3 linked regions of the Homo sapiens genome follow. The protein of the gene in region 3 interacts with the protein of the main gene of each other region in a biochemical or structural test. Each region holds a gene or a part of one and is shown on either strand. Other genes may lie near its edges.

Region 1 (3,754 bases), on a different chromosome or scaffold from region 3:
CTACTAAAAATACAAAAATTAGCTGGGCACGGTGGTGGGTGCCTGTAATCCCAGCTACTCAGGAGCTGAGGCACGAGAATCGCTTAAACCCGGCAGGCAGAGGTTGCAGTGAGCCGAGATCATACCACTGCACTCCAGCCTGGGCCACAGAGTGAGACCGTGTCAGAAAAAGAAAAAGAAAAAGGGAAAGGGGAAGGGGAAGCAGCCAACGACCACCACTGTGGCCCTGAGCTTAGTGTGGGAGCAGTGTGGCTCTGCCACAGTGGCCGTGACAACTCTCCCCAGGCGTCGGTTCTTGGGGTGTGTTTGGGGTGTCGGGATTGGGACGCCCCACGTAAACACGCTGAGACTTCACAGTCAAATCTGAACCCCTGGTTTCTGCCGGTGTCGGGTCTATCGGGGCTCCTCTGGGCTCAGGGGTTGCCGCCGTCCGCCCGCCAGCTGACCGGGAGCCCAGGGCCGCTCCATCGCCTGGGTGGGTCTCTGGGAATGGAGGGGTAGCTCAGGGCTCAGGCTCTCCCTGCATGGTGACTCCCCAGGCTAGCACCACCCAGTGGACCTGGAACAGCTGCACTGGCCCCCACTGAGGGCAGGACGTAAGTCAGCTGTGCAGCTGCCCCGACCACCATCTCTCCTGCTGGGTGCATCCACAAGGTCAGGCAGCCCCAGAAGGGCCTGAGGGAGAAGCTGTCTCCCTCTGAGGACCCTGGCTTGCCAGCCCCAGCCCCGAATCTCTCCTGGACAAGCACGAGGCCCTGCACACGCCCACGTGGCCTGGCACAGCGCTCGGCCGCTCTGGTCCCCATGTGCCGAGCTCAGCCCCTCTGTGCATCACTGGCTTTCTGTCGGGCTCCCGGGTTCCCGTCTCAGTCCAGGGCACAACGCATGCTCCCGCCACCCGCACTGCCGGCTCACGACAGCCCGACCTGGCCACATACACACTCATCTGCCCCAGCCCTGGCCTCCTCTTGGCCCCCGCTGTCCTGCCCGCAGCGGCCGTGGGGCCTGGTGCCACAGCACTGTCCAGAACCCTCTCTCTGCAGCACCCACTCCAGCGTCGGGGCCTGTGCACGTCGGCCCTGCTGCTGGAACGCCCACCCTAGGGGTTTCAAAGGTCACCTCTCTGCTCCAAGCCTCTGCCCTGTCACAGAGGACAGCCTGGACACTCACTCATATCTGAAATCCGGGTGCCATCGAGGACGCCAAGGGCTGCGACCCAACTCCTGCGTATTGTCAGGGCTCTGGGCTGTCTCTCAGGCCCCCGGCCAGCCCCTCCAGGGCCACCGAAGGCCGGAACCGAGGCTCTGGTCACGAAGGCAAGTGACAGGTGGATCCCGGATATCCAGGGTGGAGGTTGAGCCTCTGCTGGCCGACGGTGGGAGGGGCTGGACCTGGGGGTCTCCAGCCGCCCTCCTCCTCCAAGGGCACAGCCAAGAGACCGCTTGGTCTCGTATTAAATCGGGGCAGCTGCAGGTAGAAACGCCTGGGCAAGGGGGCCTGGTGAAGGAGCTGCCCCACCTTCTCCGGGGGCAGCACGCACTGGGGGCCCCCACAGAGGCCCCATTGGAGCCTCTGGCCCTAGCAGAAGACGGTGAATCCATTCACCTCTCCGTCAGAGAACAGATGCAGGAGGTACGATCACCCGGCATCATCACCATAGCAACAGCTGGCCAGGCAGCCAGGGTAGGGGGGACCCTGCCAGTGCCGGGCTCCACCCATGCACCCCTGCAGCGTGATGGCCTCATCCCCGGGTGGGACCTGGCAGGGCAGCAGAGGCCCCTTCATCCACGGGGCCTGCACGGGGCGCATGTCCTGAGGGCCCAGGGCCAGGCGCATGGAGGGGAGTGGGCTGGCGACCTACAGGCCCCAGATGACTGACAGTGACCAGGGCAGGCAGGCCCCTGGTGACAGTGACTCGGCCCCTGTGGGTGGCAGGGCCCTCGGGAAGCTGTGCACATCAGGAGACCCCAGGGAGAGTCATGGTGCAGTGCTCGGCCTCGGTAGGAGCCCCCGTGCTGGCTACTGTTTTCCTAAAGGGTGCCCAAAGCTTCCCGGCTGATCCACAGTGTGTGGGCCCCGCAGCCCCAGAGGCACGGGCACGTGCGGCGCCTGCACCCCTTTCTTCCCGCCCTCAGCAGCTGCCACCACATCCCACATTCACACCGTCTGTCCCTGGGCCCCACGCACCACACACTCCCAAGACAAGCTGGATGGACGAGGCGTGAGCGAAGCCACTGCCTCAGCCCAGGCTGGGGCCCCGCCTCACACCCCAGGGCGTGCCTCGGCCCAGGCCCCGAACTCTGCCTTCTTCTTCCCAGGTGGCTTCAGGCACCACCACTAGGGACTGGAACCCCACAGGTGCCCATCCGTGCCAGTGCCAGGGGTGCTACGGCTCGCCCGAGGCTCAGAGGAAGGTCCTCATGGTGGCAGAGTTCTAAGTGGGAGGAAATTCAGCACCGGCATCTGCCCGAGGCAGACCCCAGCGCCAGCCGGCCAGAGAGGGCAGCCGACATCCACAGGTTCCCGGGGTATTGCTGGTGCCCGATCACAACGCCAGGCTCCATGTTCACAGGGTGCTGCAGGGAGCCCGTTCCGGAGAACCCAGCTGTGCAGAGCCGCTCCAGGGTGCTGGCCGGACGCTTGAGAGGCAGGGGCAGGCTGTCACTGTCACGGTATCTGGCACAACCGCAGACACACAGAGCAAGCAGCGGCCAGAGACAGACCCAGGCCGTCTTCTGAAGACTCGGGCCAGGCCGCCGCAGGGACCAGGAGAAGACAGGGTGGGCCGGGGGGCAGCTGGGGAGACTTCCCGCCTGGCCCCATCAGTGACACTGGCCGTAGCAGCCCTCACTTCCTGGTGGCTCCCCGCCCACGCCGGCTCTTCCCCGCCACCGTGGGCGGCAGGGCCCAGCACCCCCACCGTCCTCTCACCGCCACTTGGGGACACTGCGGAGGTTGCAGGCGTTCGGGGGTGGGGGGTCGGCAGGCAGAGCTGGAACCACCCTAGGAACCACCCAGAGACGGGGAGGTCAGGGGCAAGGACGGCACGCAGGGCCACCTCCCTGCGCCCGCCTGGTTCCTGGGGGCTCAGTGCCCTCAGCAGCTCTCGCCCACACCCTACAGTCACAGCTCCAGTCAGTGCCTCCTCAGCAGGCTCGAGTCTGGGTCTGCGCAGCCGCCTGTGGCCTGAGCTCCAGCTGGCCTGTCTGGTTCCTGCCGCCACACGCCCCACTCTGGCTGACGCTCCCTTTGCTGCTCAGACACCCAGACACCCTCGTCATCGCCTTTTTTTTTTTTTTTTGGAAGGAGTCTTGCTCTGTCACCCAGGCTGGACTGCAGTGGCACAATCTCGGCTCACTGCAACCTCCGCCTTCCAGGTTCAAGCAATTCTCCCGCCTCAGCCTCCTAAGTCACTGGGACTACAGGTGCCTGCCACCACGCCTGGCCAATCTTTTGTATTTTTAGTAGGGATGGGGTTTTACCATGTTAGCCAGGCTGGTCTCGAACTCCTGACCTCAGGTGATCCGTCCACCTCAGCCTCCCAAAGCGATGGGACCACAGGCGTGAGCCACCGCGCTCGGCCTCATCACAGCCTTTCATGGGGGCAACTGCTGCCCCTGTGCCGTCGTCGCCTGAGCCCCCGACCGCAAGTGTGGCTCCCCGCTCAGGACACCCTCACGAGTCACCAGGAGAGCGGCCAGGTGCCGGCCACTCTGCACACACGTGCCCACCAGATGCCACGGGGAGCGAATCG
Region 2 (3,754 bases), on a different chromosome or scaffold from region 3:
TCACCATGCCCAGCTAATTAAAATTTTTTGTAGAGACTAGACACCAGATCTCACTGTTTCCCAGGCTGATCTTGAACTCCTGGCCTCAAGCAGTCCTTCTGAGTTGGACTCCCCAAAGGGCTGGGACTGCAAGCATGAGCCACCACACCCAGCCTTGGCTCTAATCTTAGTGTGAGGCCAAAAATTCATTGTTCAGCTTTGGCCTTTGAAAGGACTCACAGACAAACGTTGAACCCAACTCTCTTTGAGACATCCCTGAACAAGTACATCATGTTGAAATTGTGATCATATGTCATCATTAAGCATAGCAACATCGCAAACACAAACAAGGCATATTATTCCGATTTCCTATTAATATCTGAATATTAACTTTGAAATATTCACAAGTATTCTAGATATAAATTAGACTAAAAACTCCTTATATGCTTATATTTTGATATTCTATACATCAATTTAAGTAACTAAATTTTTATTCCTGTAAAAGTCAAATGCTGCAATAGTTAATGATGATGTAAAATCTATTCATTTGAAAACATAGACAATTATCAAGAACTTCCAAAAAGTTAAATAAGGAAGCCGAATGAAAGTTAATATAAGTGTTAGCAGACTGTATTAGCTGGATAACTTTAGGAAGCGCATCACATACTTTCTCACCAAAACTGTTTGCAAACAATTATACAATTAGAATACATGATAATTCTAATAATTTGTAGAATTTTTGTGTACTAGTATTCTCAAAGTTAAACCTTTAAGAATGTATTTGGTATTAATTCATTTAATTTAGACCATAAGTCCTATTACATATGAATTATGCCTATATGTGCACAAATTCATTAAAATTATCAAATATAGAGTTAACATTATTTACCTTGAAAACTCTGGTACATTGGCACTATATTTGTAGTAAGCAAAGCTTCAGAATATATTCCACTTGAATTTTTATTTAGTTCTACAAAGAGAAAAGAGGACAACTTTTTCATTCTTCACAAATAACATAGGAAATTATAGTTTCTCATGGTTAGGGGAGCATTTTTAAAAATTAGCTGAGTACCATCTTAAACCTGTAAAACTTTCCCAAGTACAGGGTCAAGGGAAAATGTAATGTGTTTGGTCAAGTCCTTTACAAAAATAAAATATTTAAGAAGTCTTTTCAAGATGAGCATGTCAACGAAACATAAACTTTAATAACAAGAGCCCCAAATTAAACATATTCAAACGTTATTGCCCTCATTTCAACTAAAAGGAATTGTGTTGACAATCTTCTTTCCTTACACTTTTTCACAGTGAAAAGAAAAAAGAGAACATCTGGCTCCAGAACAACACCTGCTACCCAGAAAAAACATCACAGGATGTCTGTCTCGAAACACCATACAAGGCTTCTCTGTATGAATTTGAGGCTTGGACCTGGTCTATTTTTATAATGCAATAGCCAAGTTCTGACTTCAGACACATACTCTGGGAACTGAACTGGATGCTGACGGTAGTTGAGCACCTGGAGCTTTCTGATTTTTGCCTTTTAAGGCTGGCCCCAAAATGGCTTCTCATCAACATACAAATTTGCCATTTCAAAAAATAGAATACTTAGCTTCAAAAAAGCCATTCCCTAGAGATTCTGGATCAGTGAAAAAGCAAGCATATGTAAGCCTCTACCTTTACCTACTTCTCTGACAAACGCATTTTCTTTTTAAACAACAAAGTTATTTATCCTAACAAAGTTATCTTCCTAAGAACCTTGATATATTCTTCCAACTTGATATATATATTCCACCTTCACAATATTCTCAAATTGTTTAAAAGAAATGCAGAAAGGAACCATGAAGTGTTCTGCTTACCATATCTGCACTACATCAACTACCCTCCCAACAAAAAGAAAATTTTATAAAATTCAAGTTTTAGATGATTAAAATTTTTCCCTTGGTAGTTCTAGACCAAATCCACAATTTTTCACCAATAAATAAACAAAGCTATATATATATAGCTATATATATATAAAATAGTAATATATATACTTTATATATATTATATATATAATATATATATAAAATAGGTAATATTTATATATATATAATAGGTAATATATATATTACCCTATAATGTATGGTAGGATTTATAAACAAGAAAGAAAACAAAAAGGAGAAAAGGGAAGGTCAGGAGAGGAAAAAACTTACGTGGTGGGGAGAGGAACCCGTAACTCACTTTGGTGTTATTTTTATAAAATGAACATTTATGGACAGGACTAAGAGGAATTCTAAAGTCCTGGTACAGACAGTTGGAGAAGTCTTCCGTAGAGAAACTGTCCTGAAGAACGAAAATGAGAAGAACTCTCAGATATCAGGCACAGAGAAGAAAATTGCTTTATTAATATTTAAAGGTGAACTACATCATAAAATTATGAAGCTCTAGCTGTCAGCTCATGTCCTTCCCTATTTTCCTACTAGTATATTCATCTTTTTTTCTAACTAAAGTGTAAAAATGCTTTACAATATTAAAGATATTAATTGTCATATTTATGCAAATATTTTCAGATTCTGCTATGCTAATATGAAATAATGTTTAGAATGATTTTATCTACACAATTTTAAATATTTATTTATTTATTTATTTATTTATTATTATTATTTTTTTAAGATGGAGTCTCACTCTGTCACCCAGACTAGAGGGCAGCGGCGCAATCTCGGCTCACCGCAACTCTGCCCCCCAGGTTCAAGCGATTCTCCTGCCTCAGCTTCCCGAGTAGCTGGGACTACAGGCATCTGCCACCACGCCTGGCTAATTTTTGTGTTTTTGGTAGAGATGGGGTTTCACCATGTTGGCAAGGCTGGTCTTGAGCTCCTGACCTCAGGTGATCCATCCGCTGCAGCCCCCTCAAAGTGCTGGGATTACAGGTGTGACCCACCACGCCTGGCTAATTTTTTGTATTTTTAGTAGAGACAGGGTTTCACCATGTTAGCCAGGATGGTCTCGAACTCCTGACCTCGTGATCTGCCCTCCTCAGCCCCCCAAAGTGTTGGGATTACAGGCGTGAGCCACCGCGCTGGTCAATTTTAAGCTTTTATATAGTAAAATGTTGATTTTTAGAGATCTGAGTCTATCTTCCATAGTCAACTACACTGCCAAAAGTTGCTGGAGCAAAGGAGGACAGTCACCGAACAGCAATGTAAAAACCTCAAGCATCGCAATGACTGTAAAGTTATGCATTTTAATTACATAAGAAAACTGAAAATGGAATCAAGGAACCCATAATTAAGGTATAAATATTAATAAATAGGATGGGGTGCCTATGAAAAATGGTGTAGACTGATCAATTACAAAGTCAAAAATTTTTTTAAGTGTTTGGTGTTTGAAGACAGTATTGAAAAATTTTAAAAATCAAAGTTCAAGAAATTTTATATAAATATATGTGTGTATTATATATTTGTAACATAGAAATTATATATAAACAGACATATCCCTATCTTTTTATTTGGTTGTCTCACTGATTAGTAAAAATCATTTTATTTTTTAAATCAAACTGCTGCCCTCCACTATGCTCTCTCAAATCCCTTTGTCGTTCCCTTAGGGCATCCTGTACCTTGCCAGTCACTTTCAGTTTCAGCCCAGTTTAAAATTTCAATTCCACGTAAGATCAAAATCTCATCTTCCCCCTTCTCTCTTTCCAGCACCATCTCCTTCACCATTCCTCCTTCTACCAGAGCACCCAGGGGGCCATGGGTGAGGGGGAAGGCTGCTCTTATTCTGGGATATTTGCCCTCAC
Region 3 (3,025 bases):
AAACCAATAAATTTGAGTAGGCTAAAAACTTGGTGATTCAAAGTATGACTCTGTAAACCTGGTCAAGTTCCTTAAACGTTAGTCCCCTCATCTTTTAAGTGTGTACAATGTCTATCACATTGGATTGTTTTAGGAATTAACTAAGTTAGGTCCATGTTGTTTGTTAGTGTCTAGCAAAATTGTAAACACACAATGACTGTTAGCTATGATATCTGAAGGGGTAATTATTAAAGGCTTGGTTCAATTTTAGGCTCCTTTAAGGAACAGTGGATATACTGAGTAACATTTGACGGATGCTAGGAATGAAGTTATATTCTTTTTCTGTTTAATTTCAGATGTACTGGCGAAGAATATTTGGTAAAGCAGGGCATCGATCTCTCACCCTGGGGCTTGTGGAAGAATCACGTGGCCTTGGCTTGTATGATTGTTATTTTCCTCACAATTGCCTACCTGAAATTGTTATTTCTTAAAAAATATTCTTAAATTTCCCCTTAATTCAGTATGATTTATCCTCACATAAAAAAGAAGCACTTTGATTGAAGTATTCAATCAAGTTTTTTTGTTGTTTTCTGTTCCCTTGCCATCACACTGTTGCACAGCAGCAATTGTTTTAAAGAGATACATTTTTAGAAATCACAACAAACTGAATTAAACATGAAAGAACCCAAGACATCATGTATCGCATATTAGTTAATCTCCTCAGACAGTAACCATGGGGAAGAAATCTGGTCTAATTTATTAATCTAAAAAAGGAGAATTGAATTCTGGAAACTCCTGACAAGTTATTACTGTCTCTGGCATTTGTTTCCTCATCTTTAAAATGAATAGGTAGGTTAGTAGCCCTTCAGTCTTAATACTTTATGATGCTATGGTTTGCCATTATTTAATAAATGACAAATGTATTAATGCTATACTGGAAATGTAAAATTGAAAATATGTTGGAAAAAAGATTCTGTCTTATAGGGTAAAAAAAGCCACCGTGATAGAAAAAAAATCTTTTTGATAAGCACATTAAAGTTAATAGAACTTACTGATATTCCTGTCTAGTGGTATAATATCTCAGGAATCTTGGCTGAGGGTTTGGAACTGTGGGTAGAGTAGAGGGCCAGGAGTCCAGTAATAGAATTCTTGCACCATTTCTGGAACATTCTAGCTCTGGGAGGTCACGTAACCTTCTTGGGGTAGTTCAGTGGTTTAGTGGTTTATAATCCAGGTGTGCGTCAGAATCATCTGAGGAACTTTGCTAAAATACAAAAATCTGGCCTAAGTAGCTCCAGATCTACCTTCATAAAGGAATCTGACCACTCCTGGATTTGGTAATTTCCAAGTTCTGAAAATTTTACTTAGGATTTAATAACTATTAACATCTGTCCCTACATAGGTTTTCTTTCCTACTTATATACCTTATGTTCTCTTCATTCTAACCTTCATCAGTAATAGGGAAATGTTTTAATTTTATTTTTTTAGTTGAAGGGTAATGTACCAAAAAATATAGTTCAGTGAATTAAAATGAACACACATGTGCAACCATCAATTCAGGTCAAGAAATAGAAGATTGTAGCACACAAAAGCCTACTCAGCCATTCTCCCAGTCACTACTTCCTTCCTTACCCCTGGGTTATTTTTGAAATGACACTTGATGTATTTCCCTCTGTTGCTGTTATGAGAACATTGCTACAGCCAAGTGTTGTGTTTCTGTGTGCATAGGTTGATACTTAATTATCTCCCCACTTTTTAATAAACTTTTAATTTGGAAATAATTTTAGATTGACAGAAAAGTTGCAAAGATAGTGAGGAAAGTTCCTGTCTACTCTTTGCTCAGCTTCCCTTAATGTTAACATTTTATATAGCAAGATGCATTTGTCAAAGCTAACAAGTTAACATTGGTACAATCACTGTTAATTAAACTGCACACAATATTCAGATTTCACCACTTTTCCACTAATATTCTTTCATTGTTCTAGGATTCAATTCAGGAGACCACATTTCATCTAGCCCTCTTTTTTAAAAGTAAATACTTTTCAGCACTTACAGGAGTTAACTGAGCTGGGGCATCATGGTGTATAGACGCCCTGACACTGGTCATCTTGGAATTCATTTAGTTTGTCAGTGGGTGCCCTGACATTCTGTCACAACATCAATTTGGGAACATGGCATTATATTTTTATCTTTGAACTTTTTTCTTTTTGGATGACATTTGATTAATGCGTCATCTTGGAACACATTATCTTTTTTCTTGGTTATGTGATCAGGAAGATTAATCAGTTTTTCCTGTTCTTGGTATAATTCCTGCTTTTCACATACCTGTCCCTTACAGTTCTCTATATATACCCTTCCCTTATTACACAGAGAGAAATATCTATCTATACTTTTTACACAAAATATACTTCAAAAGAAACAAAACAGCCACAATTATTAACTTTTTAAATAAATGAGAATTTAATTATATCCTATTTTATGTATTCTTTTTTTATATTAAAATTACCTTTATATGCTTTTGTTGTGGTAGGAACCAGATAACATAAAATTTACCATCTTAACCATTTTAAAATTAAGGACTTTTTTTTTTTTTTTTTTTTTGAGATAGAGTCTCGCTTTGTCGCCCAGGCTGTGGTGCAGTGGCGCGATCTCGGCTCACTGCAAGCTCCGCCTCCCGGGTTCATGCCATTCTCCTGCCTCAGCCTGTAATGGCTGGGACTACAGGCTCCCGCTACCACGCCCGGCTAATTTTTTTTTTTTTGTATTTTTAGTAGAGACAGGGTTTCACTGTGTTAGTCAGGATGGTCTCCATCTCCTGACCTCGTGATCCACCCGCTTCGGCCTCCCAAAGTGCTGGGATTACAGGCCTGAGCCAGCGCGCCTGGCCAGGAACTTTTTTTAAAGTATGGTTTATTTTCTTATAAAGTAGAAATGTACTTAAGGATATAGATATCCATATATATTATATGTACCCTATATATTATATATATTCTCTGTATTTTTATATCCTCTCTATATATTATATCCTATATATAATTTCTATCTA

The links.
Region 1: of the proteins of ABCG2 (region 3) and RNF126, one has a biochemical effect on the other in vitro, tested with the Homo sapiens proteins (one study listed by BioGRID).
Region 2: the proteins of ABCG2 (region 3) and ENPP1 form a complex in vitro, tested with the Homo sapiens proteins (one study listed by IntAct).

What each region holds. Positions count from the first base shown.
Region 1 is NC_000019.10:656,482-660,235, forward strand, and holds part of RNF126 (E3 ubiquitin-protein ligase RNF126), read right to left. Parts: intron 1-3,754. UniProt on the Homo sapiens protein: E3 ubiquitin-protein ligase that mediates ubiquitination oF target proteins. Depending on the associated E2 ligase, mediates 'Lys-27'-, 'Lys-29'-, 'Lys-48'- and/or 'Lys-63'-linked polyubiquitination of substrates.
Region 2 is NC_000006.12:131,880,889-131,884,642, reverse strand, and holds part of ENPP1 (ectonucleotide pyrophosphatase/phosphodiesterase family member 1), read right to left. Parts: intron 2,299-3,754; coding exon 2,169-2,298; intron 950-2,168; coding exon 869-949; intron 1-868. UniProt on the Homo sapiens protein: Nucleotide pyrophosphatase that generates diphosphate (PPi) and functions in bone mineralization and soft tissue calcification by regulating pyrophosphate levels.
Region 3 is NC_000004.12:88,089,692-88,092,716, reverse strand, and holds the end of ABCG2 (broad substrate specificity ATP-binding cassette transporter ABCG2), read left to right. Parts: intron 1-335; coding exon 336-483; 3' UTR 484-2,448; downstream 2,449-3,025.